Regions from separate parts of the Homo sapiens genome. Here regions 1, 3 and 4 are each linked to region 2. The links come from fine-mapping of genetic effects on gene expression. A gene starts in region 2. Each other region holds a variant in brackets. All regions are shown on one strand. Distances are between the middles of the regions.

What was found.
Region 1: its variant is fine-mapped to the expression of SKIC3 in cerebral cortex (GTEx, PIP 0.96). The same link has a PIP of 0.9 or more in caudate.
Region 3: its variant is fine-mapped to the expression of SKIC3 in sun-exposed skin (GTEx, PIP 0.95).
Region 4: its variant is fine-mapped to the expression of SKIC3 in whole blood (INTERVAL, PIP 0.96).

Annotation. Positions count from the first base shown.
Region 1 is chr5:95,453,509-95,458,766 of GRCh38, reverse strand. No RefSeq gene overlaps it. Among named protein-coding and RNA genes, the nearest start is that of FAM81B, 65 kb to the right of the region's middle. The variant T/A (reference allele first, on the strand shown) is at 3,312.
Region 2 is chr5:95,552,698-95,557,955 of GRCh38, reverse strand. It overlaps SKIC3 (SKI3 subunit of superkiller complex), which reads left to right and starts at 2,979. Exons shown (of 43, transcript NM_014639.4): 1 at 2,979-3,020. ARSK (arylsulfatase family member K) reads right to left here and starts at 2,855. Exons shown (of 8, transcript NM_198150.3): 1 at 2,552-2,855. The coding sequence starts at 2,677.
Region 3 is chr5:95,621,351-95,626,608 of GRCh38, reverse strand. GPR150 (G protein-coupled receptor 150) reads right to left here. Exons shown (of 1, transcript NM_199243.3): 1 at 4,467-5,258. The coding sequence ends at 5,029. LOC112267933 (a long non-coding RNA gene) reads left to right here. Exons shown (of 3, transcript XR_002956221.2): 2 at 3,168-3,243; 3 at 3,574-3,756. Among named protein-coding and RNA genes, the nearest start is that of GPR150, 3.9 kb to the right of the region's middle. RefSeq lists silencers at 4,892-4,951, 5,172-5,258 and an enhancer at 4,655-5,154. The variant A/G (reference allele first, on the strand shown) is at 2,630.
Region 4 is chr5:95,520,935-95,526,192 of GRCh38, reverse strand. It overlaps SKIC3 (SKI3 subunit of superkiller complex), which reads left to right. Exons shown (of 43, transcript NM_014639.4): 14 at 520-606; 15 at 692-795; 16 at 1,602-1,728; 17 at 2,359-2,538; 18 at 2,867-2,991; 19 at 3,886-4,139. It also overlaps the pseudogene RNU6-308P. Among named protein-coding and RNA genes, the nearest start is that of SKIC3, 31 kb to the left of the region's middle. The variant C/T (reference allele first, on the strand shown) is at 3,323.

The DNA.
Region 1 (5,258 bases), 99 kb after region 2:
AGTTTCCAATACTGTTGTCAAATGTTGTTAATGATTGCTGTCAACTCAAAGAAATGTAAAAAGGTTGAGGTGTGTATCTTTGAGTCTGACTTAGTTATCCTACAAACCTGTATTCAGATGCTGCCATTTACCTTTTGGTACTATCTGAATTCTAGGAGGAAACTTGGGAAGAAGGGAACCTCCTCCCGAGGATTAACTTTGCAAATTTAAGCCTATGTAATGATAGAGAATAGAATACTCCACTCTTGTTACGTTTTGAAGTTGATATAAGCCGGCTGAAGTGAGCTTATTGTTTCATTTAATCATTTAATCCTTGATAACATCACAAATGCCGCCCCTTGGTTTTCTCTTTGGCTTTTTCTAACCTGTCTTCCCAGAGTTCAACTTTCTTTTGGCCATCCCATGTTAAGGTACAAAGGACCTTACTTTTTTTTTCTTTATCAACTAATCCCCGCAGAGAAGATAGTTGGTAAAATCTCATGGGTGTGTATATGTTCATTCATTCATTCTTTTCTTTCTTCCTCTACCTATCCATCCATCCATTCCTGCATTTTTTGAATATTTAATGTTGGTATTATGAATACTTCGAAGCTGTTAAGTGCTATGTGATAGAATTTTGGCCTAGAGACTACACGGATTCTTTAGTATAAGAGTCATTTTGGGTTGTAGGGGAGGGGGTTTGTCCAGTACCATGTAGGCCCCACTCCATTTGAAGTCTATCCCTGAATGTTTGCCTTATGAACACAGTGCATTACTTTTTTGTAGAAGGACCTACTAGATGAGTACTAATGGCTTTTACCTGGCTGTAATGGCTATTGGGTTTGCTTTGATGGCCAGGACTTTTGGAGGAAACATCCTTCACTGGACAGTAGCATCAGCATCTTGTGCACCTCCAGTCAATGCCCATAATGTTGCTTCAGCTGTTAGCCTCCTTCTCCAGAGACAATTGAAAGAAATGCTTTTAAAATAGAGGAATAGTTCCACATTATAGTTTGTTGCAGGAGAAATCTATATTTTGTACTTCCCTCTGCTTTTGTCCATTGCTAGAATTATTGCAAGCCAAGGTATTTCTTCTCATACATAGTAAAAGAATCTTTTTTAAGCTCAAGTATTTTTAGATACTAATCTGAATCAGAGTTGTATGCCAGTGCACCATGGAACTTGTCTTTCTTTTCCCATAAAGATAAAAAGCTCTGTTTACTTGTATTAATACCATTTATCAAGTACAGTGCCTGTTATGTATCAGACACTAGTATTAGATGGTTTACATATATTTAGAGAAACAGTGTAGCATAATGTTTAAGAACAAGTTCTCTGTTCTTGTGAGTTCAAATCCTTGCTCTATCTTTTACTGGCAATATGACCTTACATAAGTTATCTAACCTCTCTGTGCCTCGGTAATAGGCATCTGGTAGATTAAATGCATTAATCTATGGAAAGTACTTTGAGCTATCTCTAATATCTGATGATAGCTCAATAAATGTTTTTTCTAATGCCTCAGTAGCCTACAAGATAGGTATTGTTATCCCCATTTTAAGATAAGGAAATTGAGATTCTGAAATTAAGGAATATATCCAAAGTCACACTGCTAATGAATGGTGGCACTGGGTTTAAACTCTGGCTTGTTAGGCCACAAGACCCTTCAAGACTTCTCAGCATAGAAGTTTGGGTTATTTTTCTCTTTTCTCAGTGCATCTTTTGAGACTGTTGAGGAAGACCTGGTTTATGACGTAGTGCTGAGTTCATCAATGATTTCTGATTTGTAAACATCACATTTGTATTTGTAAATATCTTCTGAAAGGAAGTAGCAAAACTCTACAAAAGAACAGAGAGTTATGGAAATTTAGTCTATGGAGTCACATTTTTATAACTGTATATCAAGGGAACGATTTGACATAATATTAAACCCTTAACACAAGTGTGTGTAACTCTAATCTGAAGAGGGAAATGCCTAATTAGGTAGAGGCCAAAACAGCCTAATGTTTTTCCTGGCAACCATCCTTCCTCTCTCAAGGAGGGCTCCCCACCCTCTCTGCATTGGAGAAGATGCAGCATGTTTATTTTATGGCATGGAAGGAGACTCAAGAAAGCATTTGTAACTATTCTTCACTGTGTTGCATAATATACCTTGTCAAGTTTACACTGTAGGTTGGGGTCCTCTTTGATAAATGGAAAACTAATGGTGGGTCTTGAAGTAATACTAGTAGAACTTCAAGTTGATTACTGACACCGTCTGCCAGCAGGAACTCCCAAGGAACACTGAAACCTTCAAATGATTACACTCCCTCTCCTACTTTACTGCTGCACGTCTCCCCATACTCGCCCAGGACTCTTCTGCTGTTCTTTCAGTGTTAGGTGTCTTCAGTGTTAGGTTGTTCTTGGTCTCTACTTCTCACTGTAGTCTTCATGTCCCCAACCCCTATCCCACCTAACCAAGGCAATGCCTTCCTCCCCAGTAATTCCAGTAACCATTTCTCTGCTGGTGACTTCCAAAGCTAAATCCCCAGTTCAGATCTTTCTCTCATGCTCCAGGCCCAGCTCTCTCACTAACCACTGGACATCTCCATTTGGATGTCCCATAGATGCCTCAAAATCAATTAGTTTAAAACATCTCATTATCCCCTCTCTGCTGTATTATTTCCCTCCTTTCCCACCCAAATTTGCTTCCCACACTGCATCTAATGTATTCTCTACACTGCAGCCAGAGGGATCTTTCTATAAAATGCAAATCTGTCACTCTCCTATTTAAGATCTTTTAAAGGCTACTCTGGATCCTTAAGATAAAGCCCAAGTTTCTCAATATGAGTTACAAAGTCTTTTGTGATTAGACACCCCACTTTCCCTAACTTCTCCAGCCTTCTCTCTCACTACTCACCTCCCCTAACACACAGCATAGGCTCTGACCTACACTTATTGAGCTTCTTGCAATTTCTGGCATATATCCCCATTCTCTTTTGGCCTCCAGGCCTTTGCTCAGGCTGATCAATCTGCCTGAGCCCTCACCTCTACCAATCAAGCCTCTTTCCCTTGACTTATGTCTGCTTATACATTGGAGGTCTCAATTTAGATACTCCTTCTTCTGGAAGACCCCTCTGCCTGATTCCCTGTGTTTCTGGTAAACACAGGGAATGTGTTTCCTCTCTCTGGCTCTCCCATTACACTCTACTTTCCCATGTATTTGTGATTTTAATTGTTGGTCTTTTCCACTAAACTATAAATTCCCTGAAGGCAGGGTTTGTGTTTAGGTTGTTCAATATTGTATCCACAGTGGCTAGCCCATGGATGTATGGAAGCTGGAAAGATAGAAATAG[T/A]AATACTTCACAAAAACTTTGGAGATCCCTTTTGTAAGGCAACAATGTGCACTGTGTGTGTGTGTGTGTGTGTGTGTGTGTGTGTACTATAGATCAAATTTTTCCTTCTTGGTGTTTTGGGATGCTACTTGCTGCTACTATGGGTGAAGCCAATGGAAGGGAGTCTATGTTTGGAAAATTAGAAGACGGGAGGGCTGCTGGTGTCTAGAGTACTCTGGGAATGCTGTTTCTTTGACCAAAGTCTTGGGCCTTGCTGCTGTCCTGACTACCAGATGGCAAGCATATATGCCTCACAATGGGGCTGAGAAAGCAGTTACCTGTGTGGCAGAAGGGGAGGGATTTGTCCTTAATTTTTAGTGCAGAAGTAAAACACTTTGAACATGACCATCTAGTCCTCAGTATGAATAATTTCATATGATTTTTCCCCAAAGAGCAAGTTTAAAATTTTTTATTCTACATATGTAAGATGTACATTGTGGGTTTTAATATACACTGTGATACCTCAATCAAGCTAATTAACGTATCACCTCACATAGTTACCATTTTTGTGTGTGTGGTAAGAACACTGAAGATCTCTCAGCAAATTTCAAATAGACAGTACATTATTAAGTATGATCCACATGCTGTACATTAGATCTCCAGAATTTATTCATTTTAACTTTAAAGTTTGTATCCTTTGACTGAAATCTTCCATTTGCCTCGGCTCCCAGCCCCTGGCAACTACTGTTCTATTCTCTGTTTATTTCTATGAGTTCTGGCAACTACTGTTCTATTCTTCATTTATTTCTAAAGAGATTCCACATGTAAGTGAGTTTGTGCAGTATTTAGCTTTTTGTACCTAGCTTATTTCACTTAGCATAATGCCCTCTAAGTTCACTCATGTTGTCGCAAATGGCAAGATTTCTTTCTTCTGTAAACCTGAATTATATATATATGTATATACATAGATGACAGTTTATCCATTCTTCTGTCAGGTGGTTTCCGCATCTTGGCTATTGTGAATAATGCTGCAGTGAACATAGGGTGCAAATATCTCTTTGACATACTGTTTTCACTTTATTTTCCAGAAGTGGGATTGCAGGATCATGTGATAGTTTTATTTTTAGTTTTTTTGAACAGCCTCCATATTGTTTTCCCTAATGGCTGTACCAATTTATTGTCCCACATACAGTGCACGAGGGTTCCCTTTTCTCTACATCCTCACCAACACCTGTTATCATTTGAGTTTTTATATATCTGTTGGCTATTTGTATATCTTCTTGGAAAAACATCTATTCAGGTCCTTTGCCCATTTTTTTTATCAGGTTATTTGTGTTTTTGGCTATTGAGTTGTTGAGTTCCTTATATGTTTTTGGATACTAGTTCCCCATCAGATATATGGTTTGCAAATATTTTCTCCCATTTCATAGGTTCTTTCATTTTGCTGATTGTTTCCTTTGCTGTGCAGAAACTTTTTAATTTGATGTAATCTCACTTGTTTACTTTTGTTGCCTGTGCTTTTGGTGTTATATCCAAAAAGTCATTGTCAAAACTAATGTCAAGGGGCTTTTCTCCTATGTTTTCTAAGAGCAGGTGTTGATAATAGGAAGGAAACAACAGGAAATTTAAGGGCAGTAGGACCCTTAACTATTCAAGACTGTTTAAATGGTGTTTGTACTTAAAGTAAAAACTACCTGAGCATATTTTAACATATGCCTCAAGTCTGTAGCGTGGATCTGGATTGCAGATTCTCCAGTGCTCAATCATCCTATATTTGTGGGAAGAGAAGTCTGACATTTCCCAAAGGATTAAGTAATATTGTTTGATATGGAATAAAGTGCCATGTATATTGAGCTTCTTTAGGAGGATAGTTTTATTTATCTTTTTGGATTTCTGTCAAAATAAATGCAAGGGGAGGGAGGCCCAGTGCTCCACTGGTTCCTTGAACAGAGGTGAATTTACTGTGAA
Region 2 (5,258 bases):
GTTTTCATAGATTTTCTTGAATAAATGTTTCTTCATTTGGTGTATGACCTTAGGACAGTTTCCAGACACTTTAAGTGTTTCAAATATTTAATAGTTTTTATGTATAGTTTAAAAAAGAGTTTTCATTTGGTTTGCTTGTTTTCTTGGGAGTTGATCTACAAAGCTCTTGCGTTGTTATCCTGAAAGTAAAACCAATTTGCTATTTTCTTCCTACAATTATTATCCAGCTTAACTGCTCTATCTTAGCCTGCAGAGTTTTAGAAATGATAAATCACAGTGTCAAGAATCTAACAGCATACCAAACTGGTATAATCATAGAGAGAGGAATTATTTTAAGTTTAAAGACCAACATTTTTACTATATAGTTGAATATACCTAAAACAAAAACTTCAAAGAAACTGTAAGCTGCACTCAGGACTAGCATTATTTCTAGTAATATTACAGTCTTATTTTCAAACACATTGATATATACATATTATATGTTTGGATAAAGCAAATAAGTAATTGCATTAATGCATTTAGACCAAAATATTTGGCATAAAACAAAAAAGATATAAGTATAAAAATCAAAGAATAAACTTGTAATCTTAAATTTGAATGGAAAGTATCAGTATGATCTCACAATTTATTTTTCTCATTCTAAAATATTATATACTTTCTAGATTTGTCCACTGGAAAGGTCTAGATGCAATGAACACCCTAACACTCAGACTGTGGTCTCTAAATACAAGATGGGACAGGAAATATGTATTGTGGACATGGAACTCTGTTAAAGCAAGCTGTCAAATACTAATGGGGATGGGTCAAAAGGACTCAGAACCACCTGAAGGGGCTTCCACTGGCCAAAGATAGGACAGTTTGAATATTAACAAGTATGTGAATGCAAAAATTTTTTTTATTTTTTATTTTTTAAAAATTTTTTTATTTTTATTTTTATTTTTTTTTCGAGACGGACTCTCGCTCCGTCGCCCAGGCTGGAGTGCAGTGGTGCGATATCAGGTCACTGCAAGCTCCGCCTCCCAGGTTCACGCCATTCTCCTGCTTCAGCCTCCCGAGTAGCTGGGACTACAGGCGCCCGAAACCACGCCCGGCTAATTTTTTTGTATTTTTAGTAGAGACGGGGTTTCACTGTGTTAGCCAGGATGGTCTTGATCTCTTGACCTCGTGATCCGCCCACCTCGGCCTCCCAAAGTGCTGGGATTACAGGCGTGAGCCACCGCGCCCGGCCGTGAATGCAAAAAATTTAAGCACAAATATAGAAAAATCTATGCATTCATACTACACTAAAAAAAATAACAAACCTATATATCTCAGTCATCTTTGGAAGTTTCTGGGATGTTGTGATCCACATTCGGATTCCCTTTTAGGAATGAACAATTGCCTCTGCTGAAGACAGCTGCTTTGCCCAACACCATGCCCCATTCTAGGAGCAGCCCACAACCAGTGGCCATCCAACATGCAGGTGGAAAGGTCTGTTCTCCTCACTCCTATTGGAAAGCAGCTCTGAAGCACCATACTAGTTTGAGAACTGTCATTCATAAGATGGCAACAAAATTCAGCTTCTCCTCTGCACAATCCTGCTTCCTTCATTTGCCTTTGATTACAAGAGCACTCTGTAATAAAATGCCATCTAGTCAATTTCCAGTACTGCCCATTCTCTAAGTTTAAATCACAAAGATAACTTTAAGTAATATTTTCAAAAAATCCCATGGGCACATCCAGACTATGTAATTTTAATCATCAGGAATCTACGAGAAAGGAAATACAACATATGATTACAAACACTCTTTAGTGCCAGATATGCTTAACACCAACATCTGTGTGACCACAGTAACACCGAGTGATAATAAACTAATATTACAATTAATAACCAAACAATTGTCTAAGCAGCACTTTTTAAAACATGGATCATCCTAAAAGCATCGCGTAAGGTTGACAGTAGCACCTTTGGCTTGGGAAAGTTTCAAAAACTGTTTAAGTTTGGGATTCAGCCACATTACCAACACACACACATACACACAATTTCTCTGGAATACGGGGGAGTGAATCAAGTTATACCAACGATTCCATTTGAATCAGCACTAACAGGATTATCACAGACCTGGGTAATAAAAATAAACTTTCTTCACTTCTCACCCAAACATGAATTCCTGCAAACTTGAGGTGAACTGGAAAATGACTTTTGGAAAGCTAACACGCTTTTATGGAGATGCAGAATGTTATTTTACCACACAATTAAACCAAACGGGGGTATGGACTGAAAGTTCATTAGTCGTGGTAAAATAATTTAGCGAATCGAGGTCAGTATTAAAAAAAAAAGATCTGCAAAGATGTTTTCAGTGTTTCACTATTGTTTTACATGTTTGCATAGGTATGTGGTGTACGTGTGAGTACACGGGGCCTCACATAAAATGTATTTCTTTCTTTGCATCGGGGTAAAAGGTGTTTGAAAATGTCTCAGGTTCTGCTCCCCAAAGCCTGCAGCACAGGCGGCGGCGGTGAGGTCGCCGATCCCCAGCGGGGCGCCCCTCCCCTGCCTCGCGGTACTTACGAAGGAGTCGCTCACGACCAGCACCACATTGGGCGCTTTGGCTGCTCTCCGCCTCTGCTCCCCTGCTCCGGGGGCCAGTACCGCCAGCGCCAAGGCTGCGACCACCGACACCCACAGCAGTAGCATCGCCGGTAGCGGTTCTGAGAGCCTGCCGCCGGGCCAGCCGCCTCCCTCTGGCGTTCTCTCCCTAGCAGAGCAGGGCAGGGACAGCGAACAACTCCCAAAGCTTGCAGTTTGGTTGCTTGATAGTAACGCCGAGCTTCACCCGCAGAACTACAACTCCTATCAGGCGGAGAGCGCGCACATGCGCAACAGAGAAATTCCCGCTTTTACCCACGTTAAGACCTTTTAATCAAATACCGAGCAAATCAGAACCCAGCCACTTCCAGTCACGTGAATGAGTCCTGGGAAAGGCGCATGCGCTCTCATTGCAGCCTCGGCGTTTGTAGAAGAGGAGCATCTGCTCCAGGTGGGTTTGGATTTCTGTCGGTTTTGCACAAGGGATCCTAAAGGCGATTGAAATGGTACTTAGAGAAAGAAAGGATCGGGGCCGGGGCTGTTCATTTTGGGCCGCGCAAGCGTGGCTGAGTGTTCGGCGAGAGCGTGAACTGGGCGGCGATGAGGTGGCGGCGCGGCTGTCACTTAAGTTGAATAGGGCGGTGCCTTGTGGGGCCTCTGGGTGGACCGCCTCAGGTGCGCCGTGAATGCCTTAGACCCCCCCGAATACCTTCCCAGGGAAATCTCTAGCCTGTCTCATCTTATTGCTTCTCTTACCCCGTGCAGTCAGGATTTACTGTGCTCCCATGGGGCGAGGAGCGGGGCCTAGTAAGAAGTTTCAGGCTGTAGGCAGGGGAAAGCATAGCTGTTCCTTGCCTTCAGAGAGCAAAGGAGATAAGCGAAACTGGAGGGGGAAATGGGCTGTGTGACATGTTCAGTTAGTTGACGTAGGTTCAGAATATCATTGTTTTGCTGCAGAATAAAAACCGGTCTCTTTTGACTGTTGAATTCCTTTGGAGAGTTCTGGAAGAAGCAGATTTCTGTCCCAAAGCCAAATTCCAATTTCTGTATCTAGTTTCGGGTATATAATTTGCACATCACACTAGTAGTTTTAATATTCTGACAGTTAAAAGAGGAGTTATACTACTTACTTAAGTCAACTGAATACTAATATCTGGCAGGTTTTTTTTTGCCTAAGATAATTGTAGTAAGGAACAGATTTGTTTATTTAATACTCACATGGCACTTAGGTGCTGAGCGTTATACTAAGCATTTACTGAGCATCTGCTGCGTGCCACGTACTTTTATATGGAATATTTTCTATAATCCTCACTTTCACCATATTGCAGATAGGAAAACAGGCTTAGAGAGGTTAAATGACTGGCCTGAGTTTACACAGGGAGCCAGTCAGAGCACGACTGAAAATTGAAGAGTCTGTGCCGTAACTCACTAAATGCTCTGTCTGCAGTTAGTTTATCTGTTAGTGTAGCAGAATTGTTACTCAAGCAGCATGATAAAGATCTGCGGGAGCATGCAAAAACGTAAACAGTGTTGGGCGCGGTGGCTCACGCCTGTAATCCCAGCACTTTGGGAAGCCGAGACGGGCGGATCACCGAAGGTTAGGGGTTCGAGACCAGCCTGGCCAGCATGGTGAAACCCCGTCTCTACGAAAAATACGCAAAATACTGGGCGTGGTGGCGGGCGCCTGTAATCCCAGCTACTAGGGAGGCTGAGGCAGGAGAATCACTTGAACCCAGGAGGTGGAGGTTGCAGTGAGCTGAGATCGCACCTTTGCACTCCGCCTGGGCAACAAGAGCAAAACTCCATCTCAAAAAAAAAACAAAAACAAAAAAACCCCTAAACAATAGTCTCAGTTTACATGAGTTTAGATTTCAGGGAAGCAAAACCAAGCATACATGAAATAATAATACAGCACGGAAGGTAATACAAGTGGGCTCTCTCATAAAAACAAATTTGTTTTGAGTTAATTTGGAATGTAGAACGTATTTTCTACCATAGTGACAATATTGACTGACATTTAAATTCATAAAAGTTATATTTAATTTTGTGTCTGATTCCATAAACTGTGCTTACTCTCTACAGCCTTGTTTCCACAGGACATGTACTCTGATGACAGGCTTACAAGAATACATCTTTTTCTTCTTTCTCCCCTTGGCAGTGTCAATAGGAGCAGGTGCTGCAGTGATTTGGAGCAAGACAGATATTTTAGAGCCTTAGAGACGTTGTGCTGGAAGAATCTAAGAGGCTTCTAGTCCTACTTCCCATCTGACATTCAGTTTATCCTAAAACATTCCTGCTGAGTGGATTGTCCAGCCTGTGCTTTTTCATCTCCAGTGATGGGAAACACTTCCATTGAGTACCTCATTCCACATTTATATAGGTCTCATTAAAAGTTCCTATTTTAAGTTGAAGTTAATCTTCCTCTATTTTTAACCATTCATTAGTGCATTTTTCTTCACTTTTACATGGATAATCTCTCCCTTTCAACAGTCCTTCCCCCAACTCCCTCGCCACCATTTATTTATTTTTCCTAGTCCCCAGTTTCTTCAGCTAGTTCTCATAATTTCAGGTTTCCTCATTGTTTTGATTACTCTTTTGTGAACGTACAACATTTTTGCTAATCAGTAATTCTATGCTATCAGAAAAGGTACTCAAGAGAATGTAACCATTTGCCTCACTGCCTACTTCC
Region 3 (5,258 bases), 69 kb before region 2:
AGGGATGAGAAATTACTCCAGTGGCATGGACTAATCAAGTCACAGTCTTGGAGTTGGAGAGCACCGAGGTTTCCTCAAAGTGCTGACTTTTTATAAAAGGTATAGACATTCTAATAAGAATCTGAGAACTGTCAGAAAAGGAGAAATAAATGCTAGGAAGGCAATGAACAATGCCCACTACTCCTTCTGTAAGGCCCAACTCCCTACTTTTAAGTACTACCATTGCTGCATTAATTTTCCATGACAATTCTCCAAGATCTATTGCTTTCCTTCATGTAATATTATTCAATTGGATTTTTATCCCTCATAGCCAGTATTAGAAAATAACATTAGCTATCATGTATTGAGGGAATCTGAAGAAACAAACCTAGATTCCCCTTACCTCCACCCAATCAAATATTTTGCGTACATTATCCTATGAAGGACATAGTATTAACTCCTATTTTCTTGATGAGAAAACCAAGACTCAAAAATATTCAGCAAACCGCCTGAAGTCACACAGCTACTAACTGTACAGATGAAAGTCAAGTTCAGGTCTTTAGACTCTGAATATTCTACTCTTTTCATAATATTATATTGCCTCCCAACTCAGCAAAATATATTTTAATTTAAGAAGAACAATTCATTTTTATTAGAATATTTTCCCTTTGATCAAGTCAGAACATTTTTAGGAATAGAAGGCAAACTCCTCAAATTTTCTAACATCTTCTGTGTTTCTTAGGACATACCTTAGAAAAAAATGCTTTAAATCTGTCTTCCACAAGATAAGCCAGACTATTCTATTTTTTGAATATTGTTTATAACTAATCACTAGTGTGGTTTATTACTCCTGGATGTTTTCTGCATTCTTTGCATTTCAAATTACAACATAAGTCACATTTACTTATTTTGGCCTTATGTTACTGAGGTTTTTCTTTAAGATGTAGAATTCTTTGCATTTAGTCTTTAAAGTTCTATAAAATCAGGACCACCACATTGCTCAGTTCTGCTGGTGATGTTCACATCTTCATCAATATGAAAAGTGCTCCCTGAAGTCCTGTGTGCAGTAGTTTGGTTAAAATCTAACTCCAAAAAATGTAGAGAATAGAGGAATGGTTTGTCTCTATTTTATAGGGCAACTTTGATTTCTTCCAAACTGCAAGTGTGTAGATCTGGTTTCTCTTCTAGTCGTTTCCTATTTGGGTGATAACCTAGAAAAGAGAGCAATTTCGGGGTCAACCTGTGTATTTGCCTTTGCTGTGTGATGTGAATATTATGTTCTACTCTAGCAAGAGTCTAAATCTGAATAACCTTCAGGGGCCTCCTTGACTAGGACACAGCTGAATCTCTGTGTTGCCTCTAGAAATGCAGATTAGGGTCAACACAAATAGGATGGCCATCCTGAGGAAATATCTCAAATTTCCTAACCTACAAATGCCTCCAGGGATGGGAACCAAGTCATCTAGTTATGTATTCAAGTTTCAGATATGGTTAAAATTAGAGGAAATTCCTTGCTTAAAGAAGAGAAGCATTTCCGTATAAATTGGGCTTAACTAAATCTACAAAATCTAGGAAAACATCAGTTTAATCGGATTTCAAATTAACTTCTTGAGTTGGTATTCTATATTTCCAACCCAGATGAAGAATTCTCAAAATTTCTAGGTAACAATGAGCTGAATACCCCTGTTGTATTGTAAAAACCAATCTAGATAACACTTTTGCAATAGTTTAAAAGTTTTATTCTTGCCTTTTTAACTAGCATTTCCTCTTCTTTCTTTACTGTAGAGCCTCAGTTTTTTCATCCCTCCCTCAATACAATTCATATGCTCAGTTCCATGTTCAAGCCAATCATGGTGGCCCCATTTCTCTTGCAATGATAGGTCTAAATATGGACATGTGATATAGTTCTGGCAAATGAGCCATTTAGGAGAGTCTACTGGGGACTTCTGAGACATGTTGTTTCATTTCTATAAAGGGTACAAAAAAGAGAAATCCTTCTTCTTCTGGACATTGTTACATTTGAATGTGATGCCTGGAATTGCAGCAGCCATTTTGTGACCTCAAGGGGAACTGGCCTGAGTGTCAAGTCCACCACTCAAGATGGCAGACTGGAAAGAGGAAAAGGATCTGAGCCCTTGTATGAGTGAGGCTGCTCCAGAAAAACAGAACCAATAGCATTTATATAGATATATAAGAGGAGATGTATTACGGGAATTGGCTCACGTGACCATGAAGGCCCAAAAGTCCTACCATATACTGTCTGCAAGCTGGAGAACCAGGAAAGCTGGTGGTAAAATTTAGTCTGAGTCTGAAGGCCTGAGAATGGGGGCTGTGGGGGTTTGTGCTGCTGGTATAAATCCTGGAGTTTGAAGGCCCAAGAACAGAAGTGAACTGTCCAAGGACAAGAGAAGATGGGTGTCGCAGCCCAAGAAGAGAGAGAGAGGATTCACATTTCCTTTGTCTTTTTGTTCTATTTGGGTGGGCCCTCAACAGATGGGATGATGCTTGCCACCTCTGGTGAGGATTGATCTTCTTCACTCAGTCTACGATTTGAATGTTAATTTCTTCTGGAAACACCCTCACAGGCACACCCAGAAATGATGTTTTACCAGCTATCTGAGCATCCCTTAACCCAGTCAAGTTGACACAT[A/G]AAATTAACCGTCACAGCCCTTGATTATGAAGTTGAGCTACTTACTTAACCAACCCTGGCACAGCCCTACCACCAGACTTCTTGTCATGTGAAATAATAAGTTGAAGCCAGCTGAGTAAGCTTTTCTGTTAGGGTAGTCTTAACTGCAGAAAACAGAAAACCTGTCTCAGCTGCTTTAAATTTATTATCTCTCTTGAGCGCATTCGAAGTGGTCCAACATTAGGAATCGTATTCTGAAGACTCTCTGAGATTCTGCCTTGATTTCTCATCTAAGAATTCCCCCCTACCCTTCCATTTGGTGATCCTTCATGCCATCATTGAGATGACCTTTCTAAAATTGAAATTGGGTCAAATTATAACTGATTAAATTCTTCAAAGGCTACTTTTTGCTTTCTTGGCTTGGCACACAGACCTGTCTTCACTGGGGCCAGGCTGAATTTCTCTGACCACGTATCTCATTAGGTCAGGCCCCAAAGGCACCCTAAAGCTATTGTCATTACTTGACTATGCTATGTTCTGTCTCTTCTATGCTTTGCAGTGCTATTCCCGTTGCCTAGAACACCTTTCCTGACCTGAAGGGTCACCCCCAAACCAGCCTTCAAGAGCTTCTTTTGGTGAGTCTTTCCTAATGTCCCCTCATAGTCCCCCAAGATTGTCAGATTCTCCTCTTCAGTTCTTCTGGCACCCTGACTGAATTCCCCTGTTATAACACAGGTGACACTGCAGTGTAATTGTCAGATTGTTTCCTACATTTGACTATAACGTCTTTGAGGGAAAAATGTGACTTATTCATCTCAGCATCTCCAATGCCTAGCTTATTAACTGGCACAAAATAAGCAGGTAATAAATGTTTATTAATGAATAAATAATGGTATAATCTAGACTTGGGTTCATGAAGACAACTGTATCCTCTCTTTGGCTGATTTATTCCTGGTATTTTGCAGACCATTGCATCCTCAACAGGGTAAGGAGGAACAAAGAGAGGAAGGAAAAGCTACAACTCTGGAACATCTGCTGTCAAAATTTTGGAGGAAGGTAAAGAAAGCTTAGTAAAGATTTTCTTTCGTATATCTTTTATTTGTTCTATCTCTAACTCACATGATGAATTGTTCAACAAATATATATTGAGAGCCTACTACATGTCAAGCATTGTTTAAGCATTTGGAATATATTAGTGAACAAAACAGCCCTCAGCATTGGCTCTACAAAGAGCTTTAAACAATCATTTCCCCTTTCTGCATCTTAGGTCTGCATTTGTGCATGAACAAGAAACACTATAATGGAAAGCTTTAGATCCTCATACAAAAATCACTGATAAACCCATGGATATATTGTTCATAAGTGCTGCCACTTCTGTCTAGAACCAAGAACAGTTGAGAGGAAGAGGTTACTGATCAAATCCGCTCTTGACCTTGTTCTCAGCTATCCACACCAACAGGCATTGAATTCATTTTTTTAACAAGGGAGTTTTATATACACATGCAGCATTCTGAGGTTTTGACTTCCTTCCTAGCTGCAAATCTCTTTGAGGCTCCATCTGGGACACTGAGCCCCACCCATATGCACCACCTTGAAGCTTCCTTTCTCTGGTTTGCTGGGGACTTTGTACGGAGAGGCTCCATCTGGGCATAGCATTACACCTTTAGAGGCTGCTGGGGGCACAGGGACGATTTCCAACAGAAACCAAGTATATTTGAAAGACACCAAGTCAAGCTTTTGTTTCCTTCCTACAACCTCAGCTTCTGTTGAAGTGGAAACTAGACTGGAAATAAAGGCCACGCTGATTTTCTTCTGAGAAAATACATTACTATGTTAAAAAAAAAAAAGTCCCAATTGCTCCGTGGGAAAGGTTTTTATTTTATAAATACTCTGTGGCTCTGAAATGACAGCATGATTACATTTCTGACAGCACTGGTATAATTCTCAGACTCCCCAGGGAGAGCAACGTGGGGATTTTCCTCCTGGAAAGAAAAGGCAAACTTGCAGGTGCTGAAGGTACATTTGATTTAAGCACGATTCAAAATAAGTAAATACAGATGATAACACAGCAAATACTGAAAGTTGGGTAATCAGCAAAAATAAATGGCATTATCCAGAGCACTATAAATGCGTGAAAGAAAACTGCAAAAATAACTGTTTTTGTTTTTACAACTTTCCAGTGGCTCACTGTCTCCAAATGGGGAGATATGAGAGGAACTGTAGGGAAGAAGAGAAACTGGAAGAGCATAGGGAAATGTAAACATGAGAAGGGAATAGGAGAGTGGAGGAAGGGGACAACTTCAGTGTCACTCTCTCACAGACTCTCCTGCCCCTTGTGATCTGGACAGACCCTGGCAGGCCTCGAGTTCCCTGGAGGTTGCGCCTTAGCGACAGATGACCCGTCTCTGACCACCAAGCACCTAGAAGGCACTTTCGCAGGAGCAAGGCAGGGGTCTGGGGCGCGGAGGGGGTGGGCGCAAGCCGCCCTCGTCCAGCGGTTCCCGCCGAGCATGGTGATAATGAGGGTGGGGCCAGCGTTGGCGGTAGAGCGCCTGGTGGCCCCGGGGCCCCTCCTCGTCCTCCGCGCCTCCCTGCGGCGCGCAGCACAGAGAGCCCAGCCGCTTCCGCAGCTGTCGCCGGAGCCGGCAGT
Region 4 (5,258 bases), 32 kb after region 2:
GTATGTGTCTTATTTAGATTTTGATTTTTAAAATTGTTAAAATATGAGACAACTGAGAAATTTGATAGTGTTAAGGATGTTGTTTTTGTTTAGGTATGATAATGGTAATGTGGTTATGCAACTTAGAAATGAACTTTTAGATATAGATACTGAAGTATTACAGGTAAAAAGTTACAATATCTGGGATTTGTGTCAAAATCATCTGAGCAGAAGTGTGGTAAAATTAGTGGAGGTATAGATGAAAAAAATGATTGCTTGTGAGTTTGTGGTTTTGTAGCTGGATGATGGGTACATGTGGGTTTATTATACTAGTTTCTGTAATTTTTTTATGTATATGAGATTTTCCTTAATAAAAAGGTTATGAAGAGTGAAGATGTGTTATTAGTGATAGAAATCAGGACCTCTATTTCTTTATTCTATTAGGACCATGCTTTTCTGTGTTCGTTCGTTAATTAAAGCAAACATTGCTGTGGTTGTGTTGAAGGAGATTTATAGCAGTTCTTTACAATTATTTTCTAGATTTCTGATGCAGATAATATCCCAGGACTTTTGGTTCTCAAAAGCTTGGCCTATCGGAACAAAGGTTCATTTGATGAAGCTGCAAAGGTTGGCTTTTTTATTCAAACTGAGCATTTTTTGAGTTAAAAGCATTTTTATTTGGCTATAGAATTGACAGGTGTCTACTTTATAGATTATGGAAGACCTTCTCTCTTCTTACCCTGACCTAGCTGAAGTTCATGCCCTTGAGGCTTTGATTCATTTCACCAAAAAGGACTATCTACAAGCAGAAAAATGGTAAGGATATATAAATTGCTCATAGAACCATTTACATCTTAGTTCTTTATATTTCTGAAAAATTCAAAATGAGTAGGCTTGATGAAGATTTGATTTTTCATGAATTTGATCTTTGTAGGCTTTAAGTTTTAGTATTTTAAAGAAATGTATTTAGCATGTAGTACAGTAGCTATAAAAAATTATATGATGGGTTTCAAATCTAATTAGCTGATCTTGGCCGGGCGTGGTGGCTCACACCTGTAATCTCAGTACTTTGGGAGGCCAAGGCAGGTGATCTCTTGAGCGCAGGAATTCAAGACCAGCCTGGGCAACACGATGAAACCCCATCTCTACTAAAAATACAAAAAGTAGCTGGGCGTGGTGGCACATGCCTGTAGTCCCTGCTTCTCAGGAGGCTGAGGCACGAGAATTGCTTGAACCTGGGGGGTGGAGGTTGCAGTGAGCCAGGACCATTCCACTGTACTCCAGCCTGGATGACAGAGCAAGACTCGGACTCAAAAAATAAAAAAAAAAATCTAATCAGCTGATCATAATGTTCACTAAGCAGATGTAATGTTCAGTATAGTCTGAACACTTAGCACATGGTAGTGCTAAAAGGCCACTGTGCTTTTTTAAGATCCTCTTCTTCAAAAACAAATCACTTTTTTCCTTATGATAATATAAATCCTAAAGTGATGATTGGTTTCTAATTTGGCACCTCTGAATCACTCAAACTTTGATTGTTCCAACTAGGAGTCTCCTATATTGCGTGTGGGTGTGTGTGTATTTGTTTTACTATTTCTTTTTATTACCCTTTGGTGGCTTAGTTTTCAGAGAGCTCTTGAGAAAGATACCGAAGTTGCAGAATATCATTACCAACTTGGATTAACATACTGGTTCATGGGTGAAGAGACAAGAAAAGATAAAACAAAGGCTCTTACCCACTTTCTGAAGGTAAAGCAAGTGCTACAATTCAATTCCTAGTTGAAATGGCATTATAAAATCATAAATAATAATCATATACATTAGTTACAATTACTCTTTACTGAACTGTTTTTTGTGCTTTATCTTTCATATGTCAGGTTTTGTGATGGTGTTATATGGGTTTTCAAGGAAAAAATTAAAACATAAAATGTGAAAGTTACTTTTTGAAAAGCATGTGTTGTAGAAAACGAGACATAATTATCTCTTGTAAACAATACTTTTAAGGTAATTTTCACTGTAGTTTTATGAGCATACAAGTTAGATGTTTAAATTCCTGTTTTTTTAGATGTTTAACATCTATAAGTCCTACATTCTTATCTTGACTTGTAAGAGCAGATTAATTCAGTAGCAGCTCTAATTTCACATTTCCTTTACCAAAAAACAAAATATTTTTATATTTCCTTTTACTTTCTATAAGCAGTGAGGGACAGCTTTCCTGTCTGTTTTAAATCTTACATCAAAGGATTTTTTGGCATATTTTTGTATGTTTAATGAAATTATTTCTTTTTTCTTTAATCTGTGTATTTATCTTCTGTATTTGTAAAGATACTCATTAAATGAACTTTTAATGTTCTGTTATTATCAATATTTATTTCAAAGGCTGCAAGACTGGATACATATATGGGCAAAGTTTTCTGCTATTTAGGTCATTATTATAGAGACGTAGTGGGAGATAAAAACAGAGCTCGTGGATGTTATAGGAAAGCCTTTGAATTAGATGACACTGATGCTGAATCTGGAGCTGCAGCAGTTGACCTAAGTGTGGAGCTTGAAGATATGGTATGTCTAATAATCACTTTTGCTTTTTGTTTTTTTTATCCTGAGTATATAAATGAAAATATTTTTATATATGTATACTTGAAAGTTATCATTAGTTTTTTTTCTATAGGTGCAATATAAATATTTTTGCCTCTGTAAGTGAAGTTTTTTTCCATTGGCAGATATTAAATTACTAACCACTTATTGTTGAAACTGTAATTTGATGTATACCAGTGTAAGTTTAAAAAATCAGAAGTGAGAAATGAAAATATGTTTGTGTACTTTACATGAGCGTTCTGTCTTTTTATAATGTTCAATATATCTAATATTAGTATTTTCTTATTATTAGGAAATGGCTTTAGCTATCCTAACAACAGTAACTCAAAAGGCAAGTGCTGGAACGGCAAAATGGGCCTGGCTTAGGCGAGGACTATACTATTTGAAAGCTGGTCAGCATTCTCAAGCAGTGGCTGAGTAAGGCACCTTATTGTATTTAAACTATGTTAGACAAGCATAACGGTTCCTTAAATTAAGCATTTTAATTGTCTCTTACCAGGTTGTATTTTGAGAGAAGAAATAACAAAATTACTTTATGATTGATTGGTGTTTATTGTTTGCAGGGCAGTGGAATTGCAGAGATGGATTAAATGGTGTCCTGTTGTTGAGGAGATAGCCAGATTAGTGAATTGAAGTCTTAATACATATGTATAGTAGTTCTCAATAGAAATTTTAGTGATGAGAAGCTGAGGTACATATCTTTGTTGTTCTGCTGACACACATTGTTTTTGGCAAGGGAGACATTTGG[C/T]AGCTTAAAGGGCATTGGGAGCAGCTCATATATGATCAATTTGAGTCATTTGATTTGAACAGTACTTAAATGTAAATAAATGTATTTGAATCAAAATAAAATTGTTTCTGGTTTATGTTAGTATCTAGAGTACAGGCATTTTCACGGAAATGGAATTTGATCAGATATTTAAAGCATGCCTATTGTTTCCATATTTTAACTGTGGTATTTCTGTTTGGTAAAAGGATTGCTGGTGGGGGATTATGGGCTGATGTGACAAACTGAGATGGACACCTGTCCTGGTAGGATAGAAAACTCGAGTTCTTCAAGATAATCAAGGAAAAGAAATTTTGTTCAGCACTTTTTCAAAAAAAGCATTTTATTCTTATTCTGAAATTAAAATAACATTTCTTAGCATTAAAAAAATCATAAAAGGAACAAATTTATCTGCTTTAAATAGCACTTTTATAAGTAGAAGGAGCCACAGATATATATGTTTACTTGAATTATTTATTTTATATTTTCCTTTCAGATTTGGAGATAGTTCCATACTTTTAGTTCTCTTACGGTTTTTTAAATTTTAGTTTACAGGCAGCATTAAGAGCAGACCCAAAGGACTTCAATTGTTGGGAATCGTTAGGAGAAGCATACTTAAGCAGAGGAGGCTACACAACAGCCTTGAAGTCCTTCACAAAAGCCAGTGAGCTGAACCCAGAATCCATATACAGTGTGTTTAAGGTTGCAGCAATACAGCAAATCCTAGGCAAATATAAGGAGGCTGTAGCTCAATACCAGATGATCATTAAAAAGAAAGAAGATTATGTGCCTGCTTTAAAAGGTAATTTATTTTTAGTAGCTCCTTTGACTTTTATGATCCTGAAGTATAAAATCCTTGAGTAGATTTCCTGCCTAAATGTATTGAATAACTTGAAAAGGACTTCTTTAGTCAACAGCAAGCATCCATATGAACCTCTTACAGTATAGCTTATATAAATTTGAATATAAAAAGATCAAATCTTGTTTCACAAGTTAATAAATAGTAATGTGACAGAGATTTAACTTTTAGACAAACAGTATGATAACTATTAGATCTAAAAATTGATCTCTAAAACATGTTTCCCTACTCTTACATTTTGATAATTAATTCATCATGTCTCCAGAATATCTTAATACCTTTAATTACTTTGTAAGTTATACAAGCTCATTAAATTTTTTTTAAACTTCAGAGACAACTTGCATTGTTTTGTAGTTATCTAAGTTATTTTTGGTAATATAAAATAAAATACCACCATCCATATATAACCTACATTTGTAATGATTGTATTAAAAAAGCTGGGAGCTCATTATATATGCTTACTTTCTTCCATTTCCTTCTTTCTCCTTTTTAAAGAAACTGGTTTTTTTTTTCTGTTTGTTTTTCTTAAGGAATGCTTTATGAATTTTTGTGTCATCCTTGCTCAGTAGCCATGCTAATCTTCTTTTTATCATTCCGGTTTTGGTATATGTGCTGCTGAAGTGAGCACATAAATAGTATATTGTATATGACATATAACTTAGGGCTTGAAACTTTTTTTTTAATTTTGTAAAACTCTTTCCTCAAGAGAAGGAGAACTCACATTTAAGAAATCTTTACTAGGAACTTTAGGTAATCACTATTTCATTTAATTCTTATAGTATAGCTTGCTATACAGATTTTAATATAAAAAGATCATATCTTGTTTCACAATAGTTAATAAGTAGTAATATCATGGAGAGTAACATATAGATAATATCCACATTTTTTGTAGCCAAAGTTTTAGCAGGTAAGTAACTTGCCCAAAGTCAAGGAAATTCTTGGGTTCTGTAGATAACTTTTTTATAACTTCTAGTGCATGTTTACTCCAACAGAATTCTTCCATTTGAATTTCTTATTGAGTGAATGTAGGATCATGCTTTAAGATAATTTTATAACACACCG